4 linked regions of the Homo sapiens genome follow. The protein of the gene in region 1 interacts with the protein of each later gene in a pairwise test. Each region holds a gene or a part of one and is shown in the gene's direction. Other genes may lie near its edges.

Region 1 (7,047 bases):
ACCCTAGATACAGCGGTACCAACAATCAAGTCAACCTTTGTGAAGCTTAGATCGGAGGGGATCTCACAGATTTCCTCAAACACTAACCCCAGTCTCACGTATACATCTGCATCTACCACCGAAAGCCAAGGAAAAGCTCCTTCAATCTGGGGCAGGGTAATGGGAGACTGTATAAGAAAAGGGATCTTTCTCACAGTGTTTTTTGGAGAAAACATTAAACATTTCTGAGTATGGAAGCTCAGTGCAAACAAAGACTTGAGAATTTTTAGCCTATTTATGCTGACAAAATACCCAGCATGTATCTACAACTTTCAAAACATTGTTGTGTCTCACGACGATGCCTGTCCCAGTCAAGGAGCCAGCATTTGTATTTGCCTGAGGAAAAGGTTGTGATGGGGGTGAGGGTGGATTTCGCTTGTAAGGCTGCTCATATTTCACTGTGTTTATTTTTTTAATTTGATGACACCTTCAAGAGATAAAGGGCGACAATTTATTACACCAGATATTTGACAAATTGGGACAGTATTTTATTTTATTTTAATTGTTAGAGACAGGGTCTCACTCATTTGCATAGGCTGGAGTGCAGTGGCGCCATCAAAGAGCACTGCAGCCTCAACCTCCTGGGCTCAAGCGACCCTCCCATCTCAGCCTCCCTGGTATCTGGGACTACAGGTGTGCACCACCATGGCTGGCTATCCTTATATATAAATATATACATATATTTTCAGAGACAGGGTCTTGCTCTGTCACCCAGGCTGGAGTGCAGTGGTGCAAACATGGCTCACTGCAGCCTCCACCTCCTGGACTTGAACAATCCTCTTGCCTCAGCCCCCAAGTAGCTGGGACTACAGGTGCACGCCACCACCCCCAGCTAATTTTTAATTTTTTGTAGAGATGGGGTTTCACCATGTTGGTCAGACTGGTCTCAAACTCCTGAGCTCAGGCAATCTGCCTGCTTTGGCTTCCCAAAGTGTTGGGATTACAGGTTTGAGCCACTGCACCTGGCCAATTTTAAATAAATGAGCATTTACTCACATAGAATCCTTGAATTATAAACCTGATGCCAACTTAGAGATCATCTGAGGCCCACCAATATTGTTTTGGGGAGTTTTGAGAAAAACACCATGCCCAGGCCTGACTTCAGATAAACTGAATCAGAATCTCAAGGGATGGGACCAAGGGGAATTTTCCACTTTTAAAGCTCCACAAGTGATTCCAACATGCAGCCAGGATCAAGAAACAGCTCTAGTCTCATTATTTCATTTTACCAATAAAGATATAGAAGTTCAAACAGATGAAGTGACCTGCCTAAGATCACACTGCCAGTAAGTGGTGTCTCACAACCAACTCCTCTGACTGCTAACCCAATGTTCTTTCCACTATGTTCTTTTTTTGTTTCTTCTTATAGAAAGAGCTTAGGGTTTTACTGAACATTAAAGTTATGCGATTTACAATTGAAAGAGAAGAGCTAGAGTCCAGGAAGTATTGGTGGGGCATCTTCAGAGGGCTCAACTCAGTTGTGGGTTCTCTGAAGACTACTATGCCCAGGACATAGCTCCTGCCAAGTCTCATTGATGGCAGTCAAAAGACATTTTGCTAAAGGCAATGACTAACACTGTATGCAGTGTTCATTAGTCTTGTGTTGGGTCACTTGTTCACAAATTAGTTTCACCTATGGTAGTAAACATTCATTGACAAATGTTCTCACTTTCAGGAATTAATTACATTAAAGCAAACAATAGTGGGGCAGATCGGTGCTTCTTAATATTTGAATTAGGGTAGGGGTTAGGGCAAGGAGTCACAGGTCCCATTGGAGAACTAGTGAAAACTACAAACTTCCCCACAAAAATACACATACATAAATGTTGCATGTAATTTCTGAGGATTCACCGACACCTCTCCCATCCTGTCTAAACTCATACATAAACTCCAGATTAAAATCTCCTGGACTAGATGATTTTGAAGCTCTCTTTCAGTGTTTTTCTCAAAGTGTGGTCCATGGACCACAGAATCAGAATCACTTGGGGTGTTTGTTAAAGAAGTGATTAATAAGACTGCCACAGACCTACTGTTTCAGAATCTCTGGGGAATGAGGTACAGGAATCTGTATGTTAAAAAAAAAAAACCCAAAACCAGATGGTTCTTTTGGAAACTAACACTTGAGAATCAGTGCTTTATTCCAACTCAAGATTTTTAAATGCTTTCATCTGTTGAATATTTTAGGTTTTGTCTGTTCATCTATCAAGTATAGCAAACAGTATGCTTAGTATGAACTCATTACAGAATATTTGTGTGTATGTACATAGGAAAAATATCTGGAAGTATAGATGTGGGTGTGTGTATATATGTGTGTAAATATATATAATAATGTTAATAGTAGGAATACAGATGATCTCTATTTTTCCGCTTTATCCTTCTGTTTTATTTCTCTCATTTTTTTCTTCCTGTGTTTAAAAAAGATGCTTCTTGTTTCTGAGCTCAATTCCCCCACCTGAGAACAGGGTGCTGTAACTAGGTGAATTTCAAGATCATGTCTTGTTCCGATGGTCCGTGACTCCATACTACCCCCTAGGTTCCCTCGTCCATCTCACAGCATGAACTGCATAGGTAACAACAGTGTTTGGAGAATAAGCATGTATTATTTTTGTATGTATTACGTTTGAGATGCCTAGCAACCGTTTTTGTGCCCGCAAAATTTTTCTCTTCTTTGTCAAGGAGCCAAAACGGAAATAGTCTACTATCTACGGCCCTCAAAAGTTCCTCCTCTCTCCTTAGCCTTAGAAAATACCGTCCGCCATAGGCATGGGCAAAGACCTCATGGCTAAAACACCAAAAGCAATCGCAACAAAAGTCAAAATTGACAAATGGGATCTAATTAAAAGAACTTCTGCACAGCAAAAGAAATTAGCATTAGCGTGAACAGGCAACCTGCAGAATGGGAGAAAATTTTTGCAATCTACCCATCTGACAAAGGTCTAATATCCAGAATCTACAAGGACCTTAAACAAATTTACAAGAAAAAAACAACCCCATCAAAAAGTGGGCAAAGGATATGACCAGACACTTCTCAAAAAAAGACATTTATGCAGCAACAAACATGAAAAAAAGCTCATTATCACTGATCATTAGAGAAAGGCAAATCAAAACCACAATGAGATACCATCTCACGCCAGTCAGAATGGTGATTATTAAAAAATCAGGAAACAATAGATGCTGGCGAGGCTGAGGAAAAATAGGAATGCTTTTACACTGTTGGTGGGAGTGTAAATTAGTTCAACTATTGTGGCAGACAGTGTGGCGATTCCTCAAAAATCTAGAACCAGAAATACCATTTGACGCATGCACACGTATGTTTATTGCAGCACTATTTACAATAGCAAAGACTTGGAACCAACCCAAATGCCCATCAATGATAGACTAGATAAAGAAAACGTGGCACATATATGCCATGGAATACTATGCAGCCATAAAAAAATGAGATCATGTCCTTTGCAGGGACATGGATGAAGCTGGAAGCCATCATCCTTAGCAAACTAACACAGGAACAGAAAACAAAACACTGCATGTTCTCACTCATAAGTGGGAGTTGAACAATGAGAACACATGGACACAGGGAGGGGAACAACACACACGGGGGCCTGTCAAGGGGTGGGGGCCAAGGGGAGGGAGAGCATTAGGAGAAATACCTAATGCATGTGGGGCTTAAAACCTAGATGACGGGTTGATAGGTGCAGTAAACCACCATGGCACATGTATACCTATGTAACAAAGCTGCACATTCTGCACATGTATCCCAGAACTTAAAGTAAAATTAAAAAAAAAAAAAAAAAAGAAAGAAAAAGAAAAAGAAAATGCCGTCCGCGCATATCTCTCAGGAGCATAGGAAGGGCTGTGAACCAAAAAGCCAGGGCGTGGTCGCCCCGCCCACCGGCCGCTACATCACCACCCCTCTCGCCGCTTTCAAGCGCGGAGATTGGCTGTAAGCAAGAAAGAGCCCCGCCCCTAGTCTTATGACTCGCACTGAAGCGCCGATTCCTGGCTTTTGCAAGGCTGTGGTCGGTGGTCATCAGTGCTCTTGACCCAGGTCCAGCGAGCCTTTTCCCTGGTGTTGCAGCTGTTGTTGTACCGCCGCCGTCGCCGCCGTCGCCGCCTGCTCTGCGGGGTCATGGTGTGCTTCCGCCTCTTCCCGGTTCCGGGCTCAGGGCTCGTTCTGGTCTGCCTAGTCCTGGGTGAGTTGTCGGGCCCTCCCGATTAGTCTGTCCGCCTGGGCCCGGGGCACCAGTTCAAAGCTACAACCTGAAAGACTGGTCCGAGGGGGAGGGGGTTGAGAGGCTCAGCAGCTAACACTGGGCGGCGGCGGTTGGCCCGGGGAGGCAAGCGGTGACCTAGAGAAGGCCTGACCGACGGATGGCGGGGAAGAAGGGCCCAGGAGAGTAAGAAGGGGCCGGTAACGGGGGGTGGACGCCGAGGGAGTAGGCTGGGAGGAGTGAAGCGTGGAGAGGGTCAGCGTGGAAAGAGTAACTTGGGGAAAACACTGAGGAGTGAGCGTAGGAGGGTGGTACATGCAGATTTTGGGCGCCAGAGACAATTAGGAGAGTCTTGGTTTGCTGAGATCAGGGAAGAGTTTTGAAGATGGTGGAAAAACTATGGGGTGAGATAGGAAATTAAGAGAGAAGACCATGCCTGCCTGGAGTAGCTTGGGAGAAGTGTGTGGGTGGGGGACAGATGGGACAGATAGGACAGTAGAGCCTGAGGGGCAGGGGCAGTGACAGGGTTGGGCATTTTGAAGGTTGGAATTTGAGACTGTGAAGAAAGGATGATTCAAGAGATTAGGAGTGATGCTGGGTTTGAGTTTGGTAGTCATAGTTTTAAGGGCGAAGGAACCTAAGGTAGCTGGGGCAATTTCCAGGAAAGAAAACTTGGACCCAACCTCTGGAGACTAAGGGGTTCAGGGGGAACTTTGATGGGGAGTGCACATCTGACTTGGAGGTATTGAGGATGTCGATTTTCTCCCAGTTTTGCTACTTCCTCCCAGCCAGACGCTGACAAAAAAATCCCCAGACGTTTCAGTTAGGAGGGCCTCCCAGATGTGAGGTTTTGGGGGTGGAGTATTTGAGTTTGGTAGACTACCTCTTTGCCTTCAGAGTTTCTTCTTTTCTTTCTTCCCCATCACACAGCTAGCCTATTACCTCATATTTTGGGGGTGCAGGGAGCAGGTAGACAAACTTGCTAAGGATTGGGTTGTTACCAGGGCCTAAGAATGGCTGGATGGGGCCGGGCGTGGTGGCTCATGCCTGTAATCCCAGCACTTTGGGAGGCCGAGGTGGGTGTATCACCTGAGGTCAGGAATTCAAGACCAGCCTGGCCAACATGGTGAAACCCCGTCTCTACTAAAAATACAAAAATTAGCCGGGCGTCGTGGCACATGCCTGTAATCCCAGCTGCTTGGGCGGCTGAGGCAGGAGAATCGCTTGAACCCAGAAGGCGGAGGTTGCAGTGAGCCAAGATTGCGCCATTGCACTCCAGCCTGGGCGACAAGAGTGAAACTCTGTCTCAAAAAATAAAAATAAATAAATCAATAAATAAATGGCTGGGTGAATGTTCGCTGATTGTGTTGTGCCCTAATAGGCAGTGGGTCGCTAACAACTTTAATGCCTAAAAGTGAACTTTGACTAAAGTGTCTCTTCCTGACTTTGATTCATGCTGTGCTTGTTGCTACCCACCTGCTCTTGCTATTTGTGACTTAATAAAATAACATAAAGAACAGACCCAGATGGGAGTGGGGAAGAAATAGACATATTAGGGGTCTGAGAAAGCAGTGAGAGGTATACATTTTGTAATTCACATTTCAGTAGAATGAAATCAACACCCTGGAATAGTGATTCTCAACCAGGGGACATTTGGCAACATCTGGAGACATTTTTGGTTGTAACAACTGGGGGATTGCTTTTAGCATCTAGTGGGTAGAGGCCAAGGATGCTGCTAAACATCCTAACTAAGCACAGGGCAGCCCCTGACAACAAAGAATCATCTCCCTGAAAATGTCAATGGTGCCAACATTGATAAATCCTGCTCGAAAACCATAGTATTGGAAGGGTTCTTGATTATCTAATTCAGTGACTCTCGAGGACCTTTTCATGCGTCTGTGAAATCAAAACTTCGGAATAAGGTTAAGAAGGTATTTGTCCTTTTCTGCTGGGCACAGTGGCTCACGCCTGTAATCCCAGCACTTTGGGAGGCTGAGGCGGGCGGATCACCTGAGATCAGGAGTTCAAGACCAGCCTGACCAACATGGTGAAACCCAGTCTCTACTAAAAATAGAAAAATTAGCCGGTGTCGTGGCACATGCCTGTAATCCCAGCTACTTGGGAGGCCGAGGCAGGAGAATCGCTTGAACCCAGGAGGCGGAGGTTGCGGTGAGCCAAGATTGCGCCACTGCATTCCAGCCTGGGCAACATGAGCGAAACTCTGTCTCAAAAAAAAAAAAAAAAAAAGAAGTTATTTGTCCTTTGTCCTTTTCACTCTCATCCTCTCACCAGTGTACAGCAGAGTTTTCCAGTGGCTACGTAACATGTGATGACCTCACCACTCTGATGTTCTTATATTTTATTCATTTCTCAGTTTTAATTTCTAATACTGTAAATACCAATACATATGACTCACATAAACCTCTGTGAAGTCCTCAGTGGATAAGAAAGTAAAGGGGTCCTGACACCAAAACTTTGGGAATCCCTGATGTAGTCCAACTGTTCACAGCGCGCAGGAAACTCTTCTGTAGCACTTCTGAAAGGCGGCCTTGAGGCAGGCTTTGCTTGAATACTTAATTGGAAGCCTTAACTGTACCTTGGAGCACTTACTGAGGGCCAACTGACCCTAAGAAAGGATTGTTTACAATGGAAAGTACCTTATCAGTGACTAGAACACATCTGACCAAGGCATCTGTTAATCAGTAGTTCCCTGCCAATTGAATCTGTGCACAAATACAACACTGTTATTGTTTTGGGAAAGTGAAAAAAATAATAGTTGTCCTACTTGTTGGCTTTCATG
Region 2 (6,605 bases), on another chromosome or scaffold:
CAGGGCACTGCTGACACACCAGCCCCCTGCCGTCCCGGCCCCTTCTGGATTTGGGGCGCTGACACGAGCGTAGAAGGGAAGCTGAGCGGCGGCTGAGAGCAGCTCCCCACTGGCCTTCAGGCACCCCTTGGCACCTACAGCCTGGATTCCGTGATCGGCAGCAGGAGGCAGACAGGTTCCGGGGCAGAAGGGGGCGGGTTTCCGGTGAGGCCCCACTTTCGGGCCAGGGAAGGCCTGAAGGCTGGGGGCCCAGCTGCCAATCCCACACACCAGAGTGGAAACTTGTGGTGCTTTTTCCAGGCCCACTGTGATCATCCCACTGCACTCCAGCCTGGGTGACAGAGCCAGACCCTGTCAGGAAACAACAGATGCTGGAGAGGTTGTGGAAAAATAGGAATGCTTTTACACTGTTGGTGGGAGTGTAAATTAGTTCAACCATTGTGGAAGTCAGTGTGGTGATTCCTCAAGGATCTAGAACTGGAAATACCATTTGACCCGGCAATCCCATTACTGGGCATATACCCAAAGGATTATAAATCATTCTGTGATAAAGATACACGCACACATATGTTTATTGCAGCACTATTCACAATAGCAAAGACTTGGAACCAACTCAAATGACTGGATTAAGAAAATGTGGTACATATACACCATGGAATACTATGCAGCCATAAAAAAGGATGAATTTATGTCCTTTTCAGGGACATGGATGAAGCTGGAAACCATCATTCTCAGCAAACTATCACAAGATCAGAAAACCAAACACCCCATGTTCTCACTCATAAGTGGGTTGTTGAACAATGGGAACACATGGACACAGGGAGGGGAACATCACACACCGGGGCCTTTCGGGGAGTGGGGGACTAGGGGAGGGATAGCATTAGGAGAAATACCTAATGTAGGTGACAGGTTGATGGGTGCAGCAAACCACCAGGGTACGTGTATACCTATATAACAAAACTGCATGTTCTACACATGTAACCCAGAACTTCAAGTATAATTAAACAATAATAATAAATAAGTAAAATATATTTTTAAAATTTTTAATTCTTAGTAATATTCAGTATGTTTACCTATGTAATTATCTTTTGTTGTAGCCTGCAGAATTTTCTTCCTGCCCCTTGAACTCTGATGAAGAAGTGAATAAATGGTTGCATTTTTATGAAATGAAAGCTCCTTTGGTTTGTCTACCAGTTTTTGTCTCCAGAGACCCAGTAAGTCTGTGTCTGTTTTTTATATTATACTACAATGATAATGCTTGATTTTTAGGATAATCTTTAAGAACTAGGCACTTTTGTGTTTGTTGTTGTTGTTGTTTTGAGACAGAGTTTCACTCTTGTTGCCCAGGCTAGAGTGCAATGGCAGGATCTCAGCTTACTGCAACCTCCGCCTCCTGGGTTCAAGCGATTCTCCTGCCTCAGCCTCCCGGGTAGCTGGGATTATAGGCATCTGCCACCATGCCTGGCTAATTTTTGTATATTTAGTAGACGGGGTTTCACCACGTTGGTCAGGCTGGTCTCAAACCACTGACCTCAGGTGATCCACCCACCTCTGCCTCCCAAAGTGTTGGGATTACAAGCATGAGCCACCATGCCCGGCCATGTGTTGTTGTTATTTAAGAATGAGGGTAGCCTCTAGAATTATTTTGGAAGATAAGGGAGCTCTTCACCATCCTATGAGTTAGGCAGAGCAGATTTTACCTTTGAGAAAATGAAGGCACAAGCATTTTAAATAACACCCAAAATTATTTTATTAAATAGCAGGTGTAGTTGGGCATGGTCACATGCCCCAGTATTCTTAGCTACTGAGGAGGCTGACTTGAACCCAGAAGTTTGAGACCAGCCTGGGTAACAGTATAATCCCCATCTCAAAAAAAACAATTAGTAGAGTCACAACTAGGATTCAGGTCTCCTGTCATCTTGTTTGGTGTTCATTATATTATAATACTATACGCTAGAAAAAATATTACAGACCAATTCAAAGCAAATACCTACTAAAATATTGGTCATATCTTCTCTTTTTTTTATTTTTTGTGACAGAGTCTCGCTCTGTTGCCCAGGCTGGAGTGCAGTGATGCAATCTCGGCTCACTGCAACCTCCGCCTCTTGGGTTCATGTGGTTCTCCTGCCTCACCCTCCTGAGTAGCTGGGATTACCGGTACTCACCACCACACCCGGCTAATTTTTGTATTTTCAGTAGAGACAGGGTTTCGCCATGTTGACCAGGCTGGTCTCGAGCTCCTGACCTCAAGTGATCCGCCCGCCTCAGCCTCCCAAAGTGGTGGGATTACAGGCATGAGCTACTCCGCCTACCCTGGTCATATCTTGATCCAGTGATTACATGCCTAGGATATTATACTTAAATATATGCATAATTGTGTAAAATTACTAGTTAAAAGGTTATTATTACAGTATTGTTGTAGTAGCAAAAGAATTAGAAATAATGCAAGTGTCAGTTGAGAAGTTACATACGCAATAGAATACCATGCAGGTATAAAAGAATGAGGAAGCTCTTTTATGATTTCATATACAAAGATCTCAAAACTATATTGTTACATGAAAAAAAGTTACATGCAGAAAAGTGTGTACAAAATACTACATTTGAGTAAAAATAAAAGTAAGTATTTATGGAAGGATATACAAGAAAATGCTTACACTGGTTACCTGCTAGGAAGGGGAGTGAGTGGTGAGGGCAAGAGAGAAGAAGATACATTTTACTGAATACATCGTTTTGCCCCCTTTGAATTTAGAACATGTGAATGTATTACCTATTTAAAAAATAAAAACTATTGCAACGTAAAAAGTTATCCCTCCCCCTTAAACTCTAATCAATAATTTGAGTACTAACATATTGTTTGTCTGTTATCTTAGGGGTTTGATTTGCGACTGGAGCACACTCATTTTTTTAGTCGTCATGGAGAAGGTGGACACTACCATTATGACACTACTCCAGATATAGTGGAATATCTTGGATACTTCTTACCTGCAGAGTTTCTCTATCGCATTGATCAACCAAAAGAGACGCATTCAATTGGGCGAGATTAAATCAGCTGATACTTATTTAGAAAAAGAAATAATTAAGGTTAATTAATTGATTGACTTATTAATTAATACTGATATAAAACCAATAGAAATGATCCCACAGGCCAGGCACAATGGCTCATGCCTATAATCCCAGCACTTTGGGAGGCTGAGGCAGGAAGCACACTGGAGCCCAGGAGTTTGAGACCAGCTTGGGCAACATAGCAAGACCCTGTCTATTTTTTTAAAAAAGTAAAAAATAGAAATTATCTCACTACTTAAATCCCATTTTTTTCACTTCATATGAAAGAACATATTGATAGTATATTCTATATTATTTCATAGATCTGTCTGAAAGAGATTGGGAACAAAAATATCTAATTGAGATATTCTTTAATTTTTTACATAGCAGCTTTATTTTTTTTATTCTGTAGTATCAGCGAAATCAGTCATGTTTATACCTTGAATATAAATATCAGGAATCATGCAATTATTTCTACTATGTATTTAGTAGTATCTTATATTTGTATAACATTATTACATTTTGCAAATTAGTATCACAACTGCTAAGTAGATGTTTCTGAGTATTAGAAAAATCAGTGTTATTACCTGCAGGATATTAAAAAACATTTGAAAAAGAGAAAAAGAAAAATCAGTGTTTAGAAATGTTGATAGTTATTGAATCTTTGAATTGAATTTTAAAAATCCATTCTAGTAATCAGAGTATACTTTTTTTATAGAACAAGGTGGCAGGTGGGGAGCCCTTTACCCTTCTGGTGAAGTTAAACCATAGAAGTTTACAATTTGCCTTTCACAAACATTAGCAGTCCGGGCATGGTGGCTGAAGCCTGTGATCCCAGCATGTTGGGAGGCCGAGTGGGAGGATTGCCTGAGCCTAGGAGTTTAAACCAGCCTGGGCACCATGGTGAGACCCCATCTCTATTATTTAAAATGTTTCTTAAATAAAAAAAACACAAACATTAGCAACTAGTTGGCTAGCCATAATTCCTCCCTTGTTTCGATTGCCAGTTAGAAGCAATTTTTATTTCACTGGTTATTTGCAAGAGAAGGGGTAAAAAAACAGCATCAGAGTGCAACACTGAAGTGAGCTTACTTTAATTTGTAAGTGAAGCTGTTGCTGAACATGACCACTATCGTTGCTGAAATATAAAATTATACTCACTGATTGTAATGGTTGAAATTTTCCTGAATAATCATTAGCCAAAGATCAACTCTCTAATGGTGCTAATGGCAATCTAGCTAATGTGCAAATTTAGGAAGTCTTCAGTACTAAGTACATAATTTTCAAATAATATTTTTTAATTGTCTACTTTGGATGTTAGCTATGTCTTGTGAGTATAAATTCCAATTTTAAGCACTATTTTGATGCAAAAAAATGAATAAAAAATTTAATTTATGATATGTTTGTAATATCTTACCTCCAGACAAAATAATATTAATAGTCTATCATTTAACAAATATGTATTGAACACCTACCCTTCTCTCTGGAGTGTACACTTCATGTGGGCAAGGGCCTTGTTCACGACTGTAGCACTAGTGCCTTTAACTGCTAGCAAAGTAGCCACTCGGATGATTATACCAAACACTTTACTAAAGCTGGGGATCTGTCTAGTGGGGAAGACAAACAATAAATATATAATATGTCAGGTGGTATTAAATGCTATGAAAAGAAAGGAGTAGATGGACTGTAAAGGAGGATGCTATTTTTTTGTGGCCATCCCGCACTGAGACAGGATGCATTCCACACTCAAAATTTGGTTCACATGTCCAGACTGATAGCCAAGTTCAGTGGCTCACGCCTGTAATCCTAGTACTTAGGGAGACCAAGGCAGGAGGATCACTTGAGGCCAGGAGTTCAAGGCCAGCCTGGGCAACAGAGAGAGACCCCCATCTCTGCAAAAAAAGAAAAAAAATTTTTTAATTATCTGGGCATGGTTGTGCACACCTGTTGTCCCAGCTGCTCAGGAGGCTGAGGCACGAGAATCACTTGAGCCCAGAAGTTGGAGGCTACAGTGAGCTATGATTGTTTCATTGCACTGTAGCCTGGGCAACACAGTGAGACCCTGTCTCAAAAAGAAAAAAAAAATGACTGATGAAGCCACACACACACCAACAGAGTATGAAAGGGTTGTTACTCACATAATGAAGCTTTCTGGGGAAAGCAGGGCAGCTCCTAAGCAGGATTTGACAACAGGGAAGGAGACTGACTTGGAGTTTTTTGGTGGTTAGGGAGTAGGGCCAGAGTGATGTTTCTTGCATGTGGTTTGAATTTCCCACTGGTATCAAAGAAGGAAACACCCAGGCTTGCTTGCTTTATTTTTTTAAAGAGATGGTGTCTCACTATGTTGCCCAGGCTGGGCTCAAGTCATCTTCCTGCCTCGGCCTCCCAAAGTGCTGGGATTACAGGCATGGGCCACCATGTCTGGCGAGCACCCAGGCTTTCTTAGCTTGCCAGAGGTGTAGGGCATAAGGGGACGAGGGGTGGGATAAGGCTTAAAAGCCACCAGCAGTCAAACATAAATTAAGTCAGATTCTTAATTACAGATTTCAGATCTGATTTCAGATCAGAGCTTATTTCAGGTCAGATTCCAGGTGTAGAGATCATCTGAAGCAGTCCTGGGCCTCTTCACACTACAGATACCAACACTGCCTTTACTCTTCCATTAGTGTCCTCCAAAATGGGGTGCATGGACAGCAGGTACACATGACCTTCCAAGGGGTGTGGGAATATTAGAACATCTATTTATATATTTTATTTCGTCCTTTTAAGTTTCTGTGGTTTTGTGTACATTTCTTACGTTAGGGATTTCAGTTCAAAATTGTATTGCTGATAGACACAATTCAAAAAGCTTGGAGACCAGGTACATTCACACCATCTAATAGAGATGGGGGAAAAGATCAAAATGCTTTTCTTTTTAAATTTTTTCTTAGTTTTCTTTCTTTATAGAGACAGAGTTTCGCCGTGTTGGCCAGGCTGTTCTCGAACTCCTGGCCTCAAGTGATCTGCCCGTCTCAGCCTCTCAAATTGCTGGGATTACAGGCATGAGGCACTGCACCTCACCCAAAGTGCTCTTCTTACTCTTACATTCACTCAGTATAACACAGAAAGCTTCTGTGACCAGATGCATGGGGGTTTTTCCCACACACCAAGCAATTCTCCAGCAGACATCAGCTGGGGGTCCTATAATTTAATTCAATTCTAACACTATTTACTTGGAGATAGCGTCAGATCCCACAGTTTAATGGTTCAATCCTCCAAGACTGCCTCCCACTTCCGATGCCAATCACAAGCTTCAGGTTGTGACCTGTACTTTTGACCAACCCACTGTAAATCGGGGTCTCTATGCCTACCTCTTCAGGTTTGATTAATTTGCTTAGAGCAGATCACTGAACCCAGGGAAACACTTTACTTATATTTTCCAGTTTATTAATAAAGGATATAATAAAGTATACAGATGAACAGCCAGATGGAAGAGATGCATATGGAAAGGCCAGCAGAAGTCCAGAGCTTCCACACCGTTTCTGGGTGCCCCACCTTCTAGGCATGTCCACCTGTTCAGCAAT
Region 3 (6,591 bases), on another chromosome or scaffold:
ATCAATCTCATTTTCTTTTGGAGAGCCTCTCTCTGTTATTTAGGTTGACACTTTTTATGGACTCATGTAGGATTATTCTAAAAACATATGATCGTGTGATCACAGCATCATGCAAATCAGTGTGTATAGTATGCTGCTATTTGTGGGAAAAGGGGGCAGAAATACTTTTTCACACTTTTGTATGCAAAAATGTCATGGTAGGATTTATAAGAGACTGATAATATTACTTTGCATCTGCAAGGCAAATAGGTGGTTGAGGGAAAAAGATGAGCGATAAGGTTTTAAAGGTATATATACCCTTTTGTATCTCTTAACTTTTTTATGTGTAAAATCACTATTGATTTCCAGTGCCATTGATATCTGCACTGGGAAGCCCCTTTGAATTTTGACAAAGACACTGTTTTTTGTTTGTTTGTTTGTTTGTTTTTGTTTTTTTTGAGATGGAGTCTCACTCTGTTGCCCAGGCTGGAGTGCAGTGGCAAGATCTGAGCTCACTGCAACCTCAGCCTCCCAGGTTGAAGTGATTCTCCTGCCTCAGCCTCCTGAGTAGCTGGGACTACAGGTGCACACCACCGTGCGGATTTTTGTATTTTTAGTAGAGAGGGAGTTTTGCCACATTGGCCAGGCTGGTCTTGAACTCCTGACCTCAGGTAATCCACCCACCTCAGCCTCCCAAAGCACTGGGATTACAGGCGTGAGCTATTGTGCCCAGCTGGGATCTTGACAAAGACACTATTTCTCTCCTTTCACCTGTGCTGTGTATTTTTCCCTCGCCTAGTTCCCAGACCTCACTGCTATATGTCTTCTCCCTGGCAGGCAGGATGACGCAAAACACGGTGATTGTGAATGGAGTTGCTATGGCCTCTAGGCCATCCCAGCCCACCCACGTCAACGTCCACATCCACCAGGAGTCAGCTTTGACACAACTGCTGAAAGCTGGAGGTTCTCTGAAGAAGTTTCTTTTTCACCCTGGGGACACTGTGCCTTCCACAGCCAGGATTGGTTATGAGCAGCTGGCTCTAGGGGTAAGACTGGGGTGGTGCGGGGTTGGGGGGCACGTTAACGAGGTGATGAGGTCAATTAAAATATAGAGCCAAATCTTCAAAATTAAAACGTTTTATTTGGGAGGAGAGAATTGCAATTTGGGGCATACACACAGACCAGGTGGTCTCCAGTATGTCTTTAGAACAAAGAGAAGGTTAGAGGCTTATAAAAAGGAGAAATGTTACATATTGCCCTTCATGAAAGATCATAGGTTTTGGGGAGCTGGTGAGCTCTGATGGGTGAGCGATGGCATGAGTAAAACTAATCCTAGAGTTGTAGCAAGGTCAGAAGCTGTAGATAAAGCTGGTTTCAGGTTGCAGCAGGCAGCTTCAGCAGCCTGATTTGTAGAGAATTACATTTTGGGAGCAACATTTTGTGCCCCGAGTGCTTTTTGCCCCTGGCCTCTCGACTCTGTTTTAGTTGAGTGTGACAAGAATGACCCCATTTGTAGGCTCAGCTTTCACAGTGGAAACTCTCCTTCTTCAATAGGATGCAAAAGAGGAAAGTGGGTTGAATTCCCATGAGAGGGACATGAGAAATCACTATTTATATCTCATTCTGTGTAGGAAAAAGTTGTAAGTGTCCCCACAGAAATTTGGATGGAAAGGAAGAATCGACCTCCTCTTTGGCACAGAGGAGTCGGTCCCAGCCAGAGGTAGGGCAACAGGAAGAACAGTCTAGAGGCTGTTAATTCGGTTTTATTGACCCCACATGGACTGAAAGCCTACAGGTGCAAGGCAATGTGTTCAGCACTTCAGGCCAAGCTACAGAGAGAATCCCTGGGCTATATCTAAAAGTACTCAGTGACCATCAGAAGGAACAGCAGCTACACTAATGACTGGAACTAAAGGTAGATCAGGTGAGGGAGAAGCACATCTGACATCCTTGAGGGCAGGAGAACCCTGAATGGAGAAGGAATAGGTATAGACAGAGGTGGAAGATGGACAAAAAAGAATTCCAGGTTAAAGAATGGCAGGAGCAAAGGCAAAGAGGCCAGAAGGCATAGGGCAAGTTCTATAATGGTTAAGAGTAAAGGGAATGGGCTTCATGAATGGGTGATTTGGGCCCATATTGCTGAGAGCCTTGAACGACCAGGTGAGGAGTCTGTCCTGAATCAGCTTTGACAGTGAGAACGCTGTCAATGGATTCTGAGCAGGAACCTGCCTCAGAGTCAGGAGGCATCCAGGTGAGAAGGATCGAGGATCTGCACTCACATAATCATAGCAGAAATGGTGAGGAGACAAAGGAGTCCCTGTCCTTCACAGACCTCCATGGCATGGGAGTGAAGGGGTTTGGGGCATAAGGAAAGAGAGGCATTCACAGCATGCAGAGAGGGTTGAAGTGTGGGTGACCAGGAGATCGGAGCCCTGAAAGTCAGGAGGAGCAGCCATTCGAGAGGTGTGTGTGTGTGTGTGTGTGTGTGTGTGTGTGTGTGTGTGGTAGTAGGGGATTTGGATGTGACAAATCCGAGATGCTGGTAGGATGTGGAGGTGGTGACAGTTGGGTTTTCCAGGAAGAAGAGGAGTTCTCTTCTGAGTCGGAGTTGGGTGTGTGAACGGCTTATTGGGGTATGACACCTATGAAATGAAAAGAGGGGGAGCAGGATTGAGCAGGAGGAACCATCAGGCTGCAATGCAGACTCTGCCAGGCCAGTGGGGGAGCTCCCAGGCAAAGGTTGCCCACTGCAGGAGTTCCACACTGGGTGGAGATGGCCCTTGAGCCACTGTCTTGCTTAATCATTGGCTGGGGGGCCCTCCTCAGTGTGTGTCTTCAGCTTGAAAAATTAGGGTGACCCTGAAGGAGCTGACAACTGCAGGCTGTCAGCAATCAAACAAGCCCTTTCTTGAAGGAGGTCTCAGCGGCACTTCTTTGTGTCTGCCACAGAGCCCTCAAGAGTGTGTGTTTGGATCTGAAGAGAAAGGATAGGCCAGAAGCTCAGGTCAGGCTGGGGGTTTGGATGGGACAATGGGACCTCTGAAGGAGAATGGGGGGGGAAAAGTGGGAATCTTCAGGTGGGATGAGAAAGTGTTGAAGTTGGGAAAAATTGATGAAGGATAAATAGCCAAGCCTATGAGAAGGGTGAGGGGAGACCCAGGCCAGTGCTGCTTCATGGATTTTAAGGGGACAGAATCTTCCAGAATCAGAGCTGCAGAGAGGTCAAGGCAGAGGAAAAGGAGAGGAGAGCCACCTAGGTAGGAGCCAGGCAGCTGGTCCCAGGGCAGCCGGGGCATGTGGACTCACGGGAAGGGGTCTGGTTTCTCATCCTGTCTTGCAGGTGACTCAGATATTGCTGGGGGTTGTGAGTTGTGTTCTTGGAGTGTGTCTCAGCTTGGGGCCCTGGACTGTGCTGAGTGCCTCAGGCTGTGCCTTCTGGGCGGGGTCTGTGGTGAGTAAGGAACAGGCTGTGAGCCTGGAGGGAGGCAAGTGGTGATGGGCAAGAAGGCGCTTATGGATCTTGGTTGGGGCTTTGGGGAAGCGACCAAAGTCTCTGGAGCCAAATGGCCTTTGGCCATGAGGAGGCTGCTCTGGGGTGTAGCTAAAACCCTGTCACTTCCATTTTTCTCTTGAAGACAGATGGGAGGGGTGGGGCAGGTATAGGTGGAATCCTGGTCTGTGTGTCAGAGTTCTTTGTCTGTCCCTGGGATCCTGCTTCACATTGGCTATTCTGGGAACTGCTGGTGGGAGGGTGATGATAGACCAATTCAGAAGAGTAAACTGGAGGCCTTTTTCTGGTGTCTCTTTTCAGGTGATCGCAGCAGGAGCTGGGGCCATTGTCCATGAGAAGCACCCGGGCAAACTTGCTGTGAGTCTTGGACACCCTCTCTCCACCTTGTTCACTGACCCCCTCCTGAATTCTGCTCCATTATCTGTCTTCTGCCCTTTGGTTGTCAATATCTTGGGGTCTTTCTTGGAGGGGAGGAGAGGGTTTCCTGGACAAGGGCTGGGGAAGAGGAGAGGGATTTGAGGCGGGGACCTCATGACTCTTCCACCGATTGAAGGAGCGTGTGTCATGACCCTCTTTCTCTTCCAGGGCTATATATCCAGCCTGCTCACCCTGGCAGGCTTTGCTACAGCTATGGCTGCTGTTGTCCTCTGCGTGAATAGCTTCATCTGGCAAACTGAACCCTTTTTATACATCGACACTGTGTGTGATCGCTCAGACCCTGTCTTCCCTACCACTGGGTACAGATGGATGCGGCGAAGTCAAGAGAACCAATGGCAGAAGGAGGAGTGTAGAGCTTACATGCAGATGCTGAGGGTGAGCAGGAAGAGTCCAGTCTTCGGGGACCCATCACAGCTCTTTTTTCCCAGGGAGCTGGGGGCCCTGGAGGACAGAGATGTAGGCTCTTTGAGCTTGGACTTCATGCTGGGTCTTTCATTCAGGAGGTTTTAATGTAAGCTACAGACATTTTTCAGACCTCATGACACGAAGATTCTCTGAATCAAGGAGGGTGAGGAACAAAGAGGAGACATTTCAGAGAGGAGATAGTGGGTCACCCTTCTGGCTTTTCTGGTGTGTTGGTATCACAGTTTTCCATTACTGAATTAAAAACCACACCAAAATGTAGTGGCTTAAAATGACAACTTATTATTTCTCACGGTGCTGTGAGTTGGCTGGATTCAGATGAGCCATTCTCACTCACGGGTTTTCTCATGCAGTTACAGTCAGATGGGGGTGAAGTTATCCAAGTGCTCGCCGAGGCTGGAGGTCTGAGATGATGTAGTTGCATGGTCCGGAGCTCAGCGGGGGCTGTCAGCAAGAGCCGGCAATGGCTTCTCCACTTGGCTTGGGCTTCTCATAGCACAGAAACTGGATTCCAATGGGGAGTACCCTAGTTGCAAGCATTTCAGGAGACAGAAAGTAGAAGCTGCCAGACCAGCTAAGGGCTTCCCTGTCACTGTATAGTGTCACTTTCACTGTGGCCAAAGCAGTTCTAGGCCCTTCCAGATTCTACGGGTTGAAGGAATAGTCTCCACTTCTTGACAGGGAGTGATAAGTTCACTCTGCAGACAAGCCAACGGGATGGAAGCTGTGGCTGGAAACACAGTCAGCTGTGGTGGGAGCAGCAAGCTGGATAGAGTCAGTGCCTGGGTGGGTGGAGAGGGTGGTGATGTGGGCAGCATTGGAGTAGCTGACACCTGACTATCTTTGTTCTTCCCTTATCTCCAGAAGTTGTTCACAGCAATCCGTGCCCTGTTCCTGGCTGTCTGTGTCTTGAAGGTCATTGTGTCCTTGGTTTCCTTGGGAGTAGGTCTTCGAAACTTGTGTGGCCAGAGCTCCCAGCCCCTGGTGAGTTGTCGGGGAGGGGCCTCTGGGCAGCGTGAGTCTGGGTGGTGAGTGTGTGGGACAGGTAGGAGTGCGGGGCCAGGGGCACCCGAACCTGAGGCTGGGCCTGGTGCCCCTCAGCTTCTTTCCATATGCAGCTCTCCCCTTTGCTGTCTGGGGAATGTGGCCATCACCATGGTCCTGGGCCAACTGTCGCCGCCCTGTGCCTCTCTGCGCCCTCCTCTGCTCTGATCTCCCCACTCTCCCCTCTGCCCTGTCCCAGGTGTTCGTCTGACTCCCCTTCCTCTGCCACCTTGTTTTTTTTTTGCCTGATCTGCTTTTCCTGTCACCTTTTCCTTTCCCTCCTCCTTTCCTCTTTCTGCTTTCTGAGTTCTATGATACTAACTCTGCCTGCATCCTTTTCCCCTAAGGATTTCTTTTTTCTTTTTTTTCCAGAATGAGGAAGGATCAGAGAAGAGGCTACTGGGGGAGAATTCAGTGCCCCCTTCGCCCTCTAGGGAGCAGACCTCCACTGCCATTGTCCTGTGAGCTGCCAAAGACCCCACGGGGTGCCCGCATGTCCCTGTCTAGGGCAGCCCAGGGCCCCCACTCCTGGCTCCTCACACTTGCCTCCCCTATGGCCGCTCTCCAGACCCTCCTCCTTTCTTCTCCCCACATCCGCACCTGCTGTTCCCACTCTGGGGTTCTCAAGTCCATGAACAGATATTGTTGCATTTTCCACAATGCTGATTAAACATAATAAACAATCCAGAAAAGCAGTTTTGCCCAGAAAGATATGGTTTCCCTTTGTTTATACACCTCGTGCGCCATGAAAGGCCTTTCTTTGTGTCGCTATGTATGAGGTTAAATGGGAGCTGATTTATCCCATTAAAACACTGTCCCAAGAAGATTAAATTTAATTATGTTCTGCTGTACATCCAGGTGGCAAAACCCCTTTTTATGATTTTCTTCAATTCAGTGTAAAGTGTAAGTCTAGTGGGCCTAGAATCTTCTTACCTGCTGAGATTGTCTAGGCTCCTACAACCTCGGCCTGTAGACTTAAGAGAACTGTGTGGAGCATGGAATGAGATTTTTGCCCCCTCCCTCCCTGTCTTCCTTCCTTTCTCTTTTTTCGTTTTGCAGTAATTAGTGTTGGTTCTGTCTCTTTTCCTGTCTCCACACACACATAAACACATCCTTAGTCTTCCTTCCTTTCATTGTAAATGATAGCAAACTGATTTTGACTTTTTCCATTTTCTTTATATATGAAGATATAACAT
Region 4 (7,017 bases), on another chromosome or scaffold:
CCGGCCCACCCATGGCTGCCCATGGACCAATAGGCATGTACCTCCTCCCCTGTGAGACCCATAAAAAGCCCCTGACTCAGCCAGACCAGAAGAGACGATGGGACGACCAGCTGCGGGGAGGAGCTACCCTCTCTGCTGAGAGCTGGAGAGATGACAGGACAACCTGCCCACAGAGAGGAGCTACTCTAGCCAGGGAAGCAAGCAGGCATGCCAGCTCTTTCTTTTCCAGTATTCCTGGGCCCAGTGGGGTCTTCTCACTCAGTTACAATATTTGATCTAAGAACATTCACTTTCCAACTGATCAGAAAGTAAAGGTGACTGGCATGGTGTGGCTGTGAGAGATGCAGTGTGACCTCAGAGGTGAACATCAGTGCCGGGACCATTTGGAGCAGGATGTGGTAACCACCAAATGGAAACCACGGCCTTTTGGCTCGACCTAGAGCATGAATGTAGCAAAGCGAAGCCCTGTACACTTTATAAAAACCAGCAGAAAGACACTCCAGTCTGAGTGAGCAGCTGGAACAAAGCTCTGCTGAGCTGAACACTCAACAGGACTACCTGCCTGCAGAGAGAGGAGCTATCCTCTTTGCTGAGAGCTGAACACTCGTTGGGACACCCTGGCTGCGGAGAGGAGCTGCCCACTGTGGGTCTCCTCTGAGCTATCCTATGGCTCAGTAAAGCTCCTCTTTGTCTTGTTTACCCTCTGCTTGTCTGTGTGTACCTCATTCTTCCTGGATGCAGGACAAGAATTGGGACCTGCTGAGTGGCGGGGCTAAAAGAGCTGTAACATGAAGAGGACTGAACCATGCGTCTTGCTCGCCACATTGTGGGTGTCCAGAAGGAAAGAAGAACTGCGGCCCTTTGGGGAGTCCAGACCCAGGAGCTTCCCAAGCTGGGGTTCTGACACCCTCTTTAGGGCTCTGCGGTTCCTGGTATCTGCAAGCTTCCAGGCACCACCATGCTTCCCAGTGTCAGCTGTGGAAGCTGCTTATGGTACACCTGGTCTAGCTGCAGCCTTGCAGGAAACCAGCACCTGTGTTGGCACCTGAAGCTGCCTGCCCCACCGCAGCCCACATGCCTAGCTGTGCGCAGTGGCCAAACCCCACACTCATTCGCTCACACACCCCTCGCTGCCCCACTCGCCCTTGGCAGGTGTGGGATCCAGGCCGGTAGCATGAGCTGAGCACAGCCTGCAGGGCCGAGTGGGCCCAATGGGCCCGAGCAAAACAGGCAAAGGCATCACTGGCCACAGAGGTTTCCAGCTGGTAAAGCAACACCCCAAAGATCCCGTGACAGTTTATGGCTGCGGTGAGCTATTATTGCGTCACTGCACTTCAGCCTGGGCAACAGAGCAAGACTCTGTCTCTTAATCTCAGCGAGTACAACAGGAAGATGTACTGAGCCCCAGACCACCCCATCTCTCAAGGTGACTGCTTGGATGGGCTGGCGTGACTGGGAAGGCCTTTGCCACTTTGCTGTCTCCTGGATTCCATATCTACTGGATGGGTGCCATCTTGCCTCTAGCCAGGGAAGCAAGCAGGCACACCAACTCTTTCCTTTCCAGTATTCCTGGGCCCAGTGGGGTCTTCTCACTCAGTTACAATATTTGATCTAAGAACATTCACTTTCCAACTGATCAGAAAGTAAAGGTGACTGGCATGGTGTTGCTGTGAGAGGTGCAGCGTAACCTCAGAGGTGAACATCAGTGCTGGGACCATTTGGAGCAGCATGTGGTAACCACCAAATGGGAACCACGGCCTTCTGGCTCGACCTAGAGCATGAATGTAGCAAAGCGAAGCCCTGTACACTTTATAAAAACCAGTAGAAAGACACTCCAGTCTGAGTGAGCAGCTGGAACAAAGGTACCACCTGAATAGAGGGTGTGTGGCAAGGGCAGGCACGAGACAGGAAATCAGACTGGAAGAGTAGGTTGGGCCTGGTCATGCGTGCCAAGGCAGGCAGCATTCTCTAAGGAGCAGTGGTAAGCCATCAAGGCATTTGTTACTAGGGGTGTGACAATATGAGATTGTATTTTCAGAAGATGACTGGGGCTATGATGATGAATGCTTTGGGTGGGAGTGGAATTAAGCCAGAGAAACCAGCTAGTTCACTACTGCAACCATCCAGCCAGGATACTGGAGACTTTTATTCAACATTAGGCAAATACTTGCTGAGCACATGCTATGTGCTAGGTACTGTTCTAGGTCCCAGGGGTGCATCAGTGAACAGACAACTGTCTCTGCCCTTGTGGAGTTCACATTCTAGCAAGGGTGAAAGAATGATAAACAGTTTATGTAGGTGAAATACATATATATATATATATATATATTTTTTTTTTTTTTTTTTTTTTTTGAGATAAAGTCTTGCTCTGTCACCCAGGCTGGAGTGCAGTGGCACGATGATAGCTCATTGCAGCCTCTACCTCTTGGACTCAAGTGATCCTCTGGCTTCAGCCTCTAGCGTAGCTAGGAGTATAGGTGCATGCCACCATGTCCAGTTAATTTTTAATTTTTTTGTAGAGATGGGGTCTCCCTACGTTGCCAAGGCTGGTCTTGACCTCCCGGCCTCAGCAATCCTCCTGCCTCTGCCTCCCAAAGTGCTGGGATTACAGACATGAGCCACCACGTCTAGCCCTAAAATATATAGCATGTCAGATGGTGATGAATGCTAACGAGAAAAAATACGGAAAGGGATATAAAGATTTGCAGCAGGGGGACAGATTATAAATTTAGAAAGTATAGTCAGAGAAGGAAGTCTTATCAATGTGATATTTGAGTGAGGACCCAAAGGAGGTAGCTGGAATGTGGATGCCAGTGGAGGAGAGGAGACGGTGGGTTTGAGAGACATAGGAGACAGAATCAACAGGACTCAGAGCCAATCAGTAGGATGACGGGAGTGAAGGAGAAAGCTGAGTCAAAAAGATTTTGATTAGAGGTGACACAGGGCCACTGTAGACCCCTGCGCAGGCGGCACACCACGCAGCCTGCCGAAGTGTACGTGGTGGCCCTGGGTGTCTGGAGATGGTGATGCTGTTCAGCAGGACCCAAACCATAGCCGAGCCCTTCCTTTTCCTCCATTGGTGTCATCTGGTAGTTTGTCTTCCCGGGTAAGAAGGTTGTAAATTTCTTAAGATGATGATTGTGTCATCCCTGATAGCCCCAGATTAGCCAAGCCAAGTGCTGAGCACATTCCTGGTGCTCAGTAAATGTCACTGTTAAAGGGGGCTTCCCAGAGCCACACAACACCCAGAATAGCCCGTGGCCATGGGGCCTCAGCCTTACTCATTCTGGAGCTCCCAATGCCACTTCCATGGTGGCCTTTCCTGGTAGATGCTAGGAGGCTGGCCTCTCCAGGGTGGGAAGGCATAGGGTCCACTGTGCAGACACAGCCCCACAGGGGATTTGGCTTATGGGCTGGGTAGCAGCCTCTGGCCCTGTGGACGGTCAGGGCCCATGCTGGTGTGTGTGCGTGATGCTTTCTGCTTTCATTTTTCCGTCCTCATCTTTCTATTACTGGTTGTCCAGGGTCCTTTGGTCACCAACGAGCATTTCCCAGTGACACAGCGCGGCCTTTCCAGGGAGGGCATCTCTTGGGCAGGGACTGGGTGCTGCAGACATCAGCCCTTCCATCCCCTGTCTTCTTCTTTCTCTCAGAGCTCTGCGTGCCTCTTGCTGTGCCCTACCTGGACAAACCCCCAACTCCGCTCCACTTCTACCGGGACTGGGTCTGCCCCAACAGGCCGTGCATTATCCGCAACGCTCTGCAGCACTGGCCGGCCCTCCAGAAGTGGTCCCTCCCCTATTTCAGGTGGGAGCTGCCCTGGGGTCAGGTGTGAGCAGTGATTACTGGCATCTGGGCATGGGCTGAGTGTCCATTCCTCTAGAGCCACAGTGGGCTCCACAGAGGTGAGTGTGGCCGTGACCCCAGATGGTTACGCGGATGCCGTGAGAGGGGATCGCTTCATGATGCCAGCTGAGCGCCGCCTGCCCCTGAGCTTCGTGCTGGATGTGCTGGAGGGCCGGGCCCAGCACCCTGGAGTCCTCTATGTGCAGAAGCAGTGCTCCAACCTGCCCAGCGAGCTGCCCCAGCTGCTGCCTGATCTGGAATCCCATGTGCCCTGGGCCTCCGAAGCCCTGGGTGAGTGGAGGTGGGGTGGTCGTGGCCCTGGACAGGGAAGATATGGGAAGGAGGGGGGTCAGCCTGTTTGCCCTTAGGTGATGACCTGGCCTATGGGCTTGGTCCTGTCAGCATCTGGTGCAGCTCACTAAATACATTCCCAGGCCTTGACTTAATCATAGATGAATTGCCAAAGATTGTTGTCCTTCCTTCTGCCCCAGGGAGGGAGGACCCCTTCCCCAAGATTTCCCAACCTCTGCCTCTTCTCCCTGACCCCTTTCTTGGGATTCTTCTGTGCTCACCCAGGTTTTGGCTCTGGCATCACTGGATGGCAGCTTTCCCCAGCCTGGCCTTCCTAACTTGCTCTCTGCCTTCTGCCCTGCAGGAAAGATGCCCGATGCTGTGAACTTCTGGCTGGGGGAGGCGGCTGCAGTGACTTCTTGTAGGTGTAAGGGGAATACAAAGGTGGGGAAGGAGCAGGTTGGGGCAGAGGGAGGGAAGACGAGGCCAGGAGTGGAGGGATGGCCCTGGGTGGAGGTTGGGCTGTTCTCTAAGATTTCTTTTGGCTTCTAGGACTCGGGCACCACAGAGGGTTTCCCCTGACAGCTGAGGTCGGGGAATGGACCCATGGCATTGGGGGCGGGTGCATTGTTTCTTCTAGACCCAAAGAAACCTCCCTGAAGGCCCGCTGGGCCAGGGGGTAAGTGTAGGAGAACTTCCCCTCTTGTTGAAGAGGAGTCCAGGGCCTGGTGAGCATCAGGTCCCTGGTAGGCAGAGTTCCAGAATGCCCATCAGAGCCCCTGGCATCTCCAGCCCACTGGCTCTGTGCGTGCTTCTCTTTTGTCATAGGACGTCTTGGGGTGCAGGGCTCTCAGCATGATGGTTTGCCTCCTCCCGTGCCCCTGCCCTCCATACCCTGCCCCCGGGCCTTCTTTCTGTTGGCAGTGCACAAGGACCACTATGAGAACCTCTACTGCGTGGTCTCAGGAGAGAAGCATTTCCTGTTCCATCCGCCCAGCGACCGGCCCTTCATCCCCTATGGTAGGGGATGTGGCCTGCAGGGAGGGGCTGGGGAACAGCTGGCCCAAGGGGGAGGGAGGCAGCAAGAGCCTGGGAGGCCAGTTCCCAGGCCTGAGGTGTGGCTGTGGCATCCCCAGTGCACCAGGGCCCCTGATCCCCTTGCCCCTGCCCAGGGCTGGCTGGGGTGGAGGAGGGTCTGGCAAGTTCCAGGCTGTTTGCAATTCCCCCACACCCTTCTCCCTTGGGCTCCAGAGCTGTACACGCCGGCAACCTACCAGCTAACTGAAGAGGGCACCTTTAAGGTGGTGGATGAAGAGGCCATGGAGAAGGTGTCTGTCCTGTTCTTGGGCTCTAGGGAGGGAGAAGGGCAGAAGCCTGGCTCTGAAGAACAGGCACAAAAGATCTGGGGAGGTGGCACCTTGCTCTGAAAAGTCTCTAAGTCTGAGGCCTTTCACTGCTGAGCCAAGCAGGGCCTGTGGTGTTGACCTTTGGAAGGGACAGAGCCTGAAGTCCTGGGGGGTCTGGGGGGCTGCTCCCTGGCATCTGATGTGTTCCCAGGTGCCCTGGATCCCACTGGACCCCTTGGCGCCAGACCTAGCACGGTACCCTAGTTACAGTCAGGCCCAGGCCCTTCGCTGCACGGTGCGGGCCGGTGAGATGCTCTATCTGCCGGCTCTGTGGTTCCACCACGTCCAGCAGTCCCAGGGCTGCATCGCAGGTGAAGAGTTGCCCAGGCCGCCTGGGGAGAGGCCCTGTCAAGGTCCAGCAGGGCCTCTGGGGGGAGGCTTGGGAGGCTCTAGGTCAGAAGAGGGATCTTCATGCTCAGATCCCCGTTCTTCCCACAGTGAATTTCTGGTATGACATGGAATACGACCTCAAGTATAGTTACTTCCAGCTGCTCGACTCCCTCACCAAGGCTTCAGGCCTTGACTGATGGAGCACTGGTGAACACCACCAAGCACGCCTCGGGGGACGGAGCCAGCCCCTCCCTGGCCAGGTCAATTCTCGAGAGAGCCTGGAGTGTGCATGCTGGCTGCTGGCCCCGGGTCCAGCATGGCTTGAGATCAGCTTTGGAGGATCTTGGAATGTGGTCATAAGGACTCAAGGTGCCAGGCAGGTCTGGGTGAGGGTTCTCAGGAAGTTGCCACACAGGTGAGCAGAGTGGGGATCAGGTGCAGCGGCACCTCTCCCCAGCGCTGTGATGTTGGGCGAGTCACTGCGTCTCGGGCATTGGTGTCCTGTCAGTAAAGAGATAATAATGGCTGTACCTCGCGGGGCTGTTGTGGGCTTGGAGATGATGTCTATGAGGACCAGCATGGAGCTGGCACACAGGACATGTTGAATAAAAGGTAGCTGTGAGTCGTATGTCCTTTTTTTTTTTTTTTTAAGATGGGGTCTCGCTCTGTCACCCAGGCTGGAGTGCAGTGGTGTGATGTCAGCTCACTGCAAGCTCCGCCTCCCAGGTTCACACTATTCTGCCTCAGCCTCCCAAGTAGCTGGGACTACAGGTGCGTGCCACCATGCCCGGCTAATTTTTTTGTATTTTTAGTAGAGACGGGGTTTCACCGTGTTAGCCAGTATGGTCTTGATCTCCTGACCTCGTGATCCACCTGCCTCGGCCTCCCAAAAGTGCTGGGATTACAGGTGTGAGCTGCTGCGCCTGGCTTATGAGTCGTATGTTCTGATCCTCCCTCTTGAAGTTGCCTTCTGTGGTCTAAGGAGGGCCTGAAGGTTCAGGTAAAAACTTCAGGGTGACCTTCACTGGGGGTGAGGGCTGGATCCCAGCCTGGGCCCAAAGAGCCGTCAGCTGCCCAAGTCCCGCTGTCCATGAGAGTCACCGCAGCCCCTCCCTGGGACAAGCAAGCAGACCTGAGTCTTGTA

What was found.
Region 2: the proteins of LAMP2 (region 1) and C11orf54 interact in binary tests that used the Homo sapiens proteins (3 or more experiments, as listed by UniProt).
Region 3: the proteins of LAMP2 (region 1) and TMEM176B interact in binary tests that used the Homo sapiens proteins (3 or more experiments, as listed by UniProt).
Region 4: the proteins of LAMP2 (region 1) and JMJD7 interact in binary tests that used the Homo sapiens proteins (3 or more experiments, as listed by UniProt).

What each region holds. Positions count from the first base shown.
Region 1 is NC_000023.11:120,466,288-120,473,334, reverse strand, and holds the start of LAMP2 (lysosome-associated membrane glycoprotein 2 isoform A precursor), read left to right. Parts: upstream 1-4,038; 5' UTR 4,039-4,165; coding exon 4,166-4,229; intron 4,230-7,047. UniProt on the Homo sapiens protein: Lysosomal membrane glycoprotein which plays an important role in lysosome biogenesis, lysosomal pH regulation and autophagy.
Region 2 is NC_000011.10:93,758,645-93,765,249, forward strand, and holds the end of C11orf54 (ester hydrolase C11orf54), read left to right. Parts: intron 1-1,097; coding exon 1,098-1,214; intron 1,215-2,870; coding exon 2,871-3,044; 3' UTR 3,045-6,105; downstream 6,106-6,605. UniProt on the Homo sapiens protein: Exhibits ester hydrolase activity on the substrate p-nitrophenyl acetate, in vitro. Regulates DNA damage and repair by regulating HIF1A degradation via chaperone-mediated autophagy (CMA).
Region 3 is NC_000007.14:150,790,800-150,797,390, reverse strand, and holds the end of TMEM176B (transmembrane protein 176B), read left to right. Parts: intron 1-816; coding exon of another isoform or gene 817-821; coding exon 822-1,025; intron 1,026-3,319; coding exon 3,320-3,430; intron 3,431-3,790; coding exon 3,791-3,847; intron 3,848-4,075; coding exon 4,076-4,303; intron 4,304-5,215; coding exon 5,216-5,335; intron 5,336-5,767; coding exon 5,768-5,860; 3' UTR 5,861-6,090; downstream 6,091-6,591. UniProt on the Homo sapiens protein: May play a role in the process of maturation of dendritic cells. Required for the development of cerebellar granule cells.
Region 4 is NC_000015.10:41,831,087-41,838,103, forward strand, and holds the end of JMJD7 (bifunctional peptidase and (3S)-lysyl hydroxylase JMJD7), read left to right. Parts: intron 1-3,653; coding exon 3,654-3,807; intron 3,808-3,883; coding exon 3,884-4,137; intron 4,138-4,501; coding exon 4,502-4,558; intron 4,559-5,061; coding exon 5,062-5,157; intron 5,158-5,388; coding exon 5,389-5,465; intron 5,466-5,694; coding exon 5,695-5,854; intron 5,855-5,981; coding exon 5,982-6,070; 3' UTR 6,071-6,495; downstream 6,496-7,017. Other genes in the region: JMJD7-PLA2G4B protein, read left to right, coding at 3,654-3,807, 3,884-4,137, 4,502-4,558, 5,062-5,157, 5,389-5,465. UniProt on the Homo sapiens protein: Bifunctional enzyme that acts both as an endopeptidase and 2-oxoglutarate-dependent monooxygenase.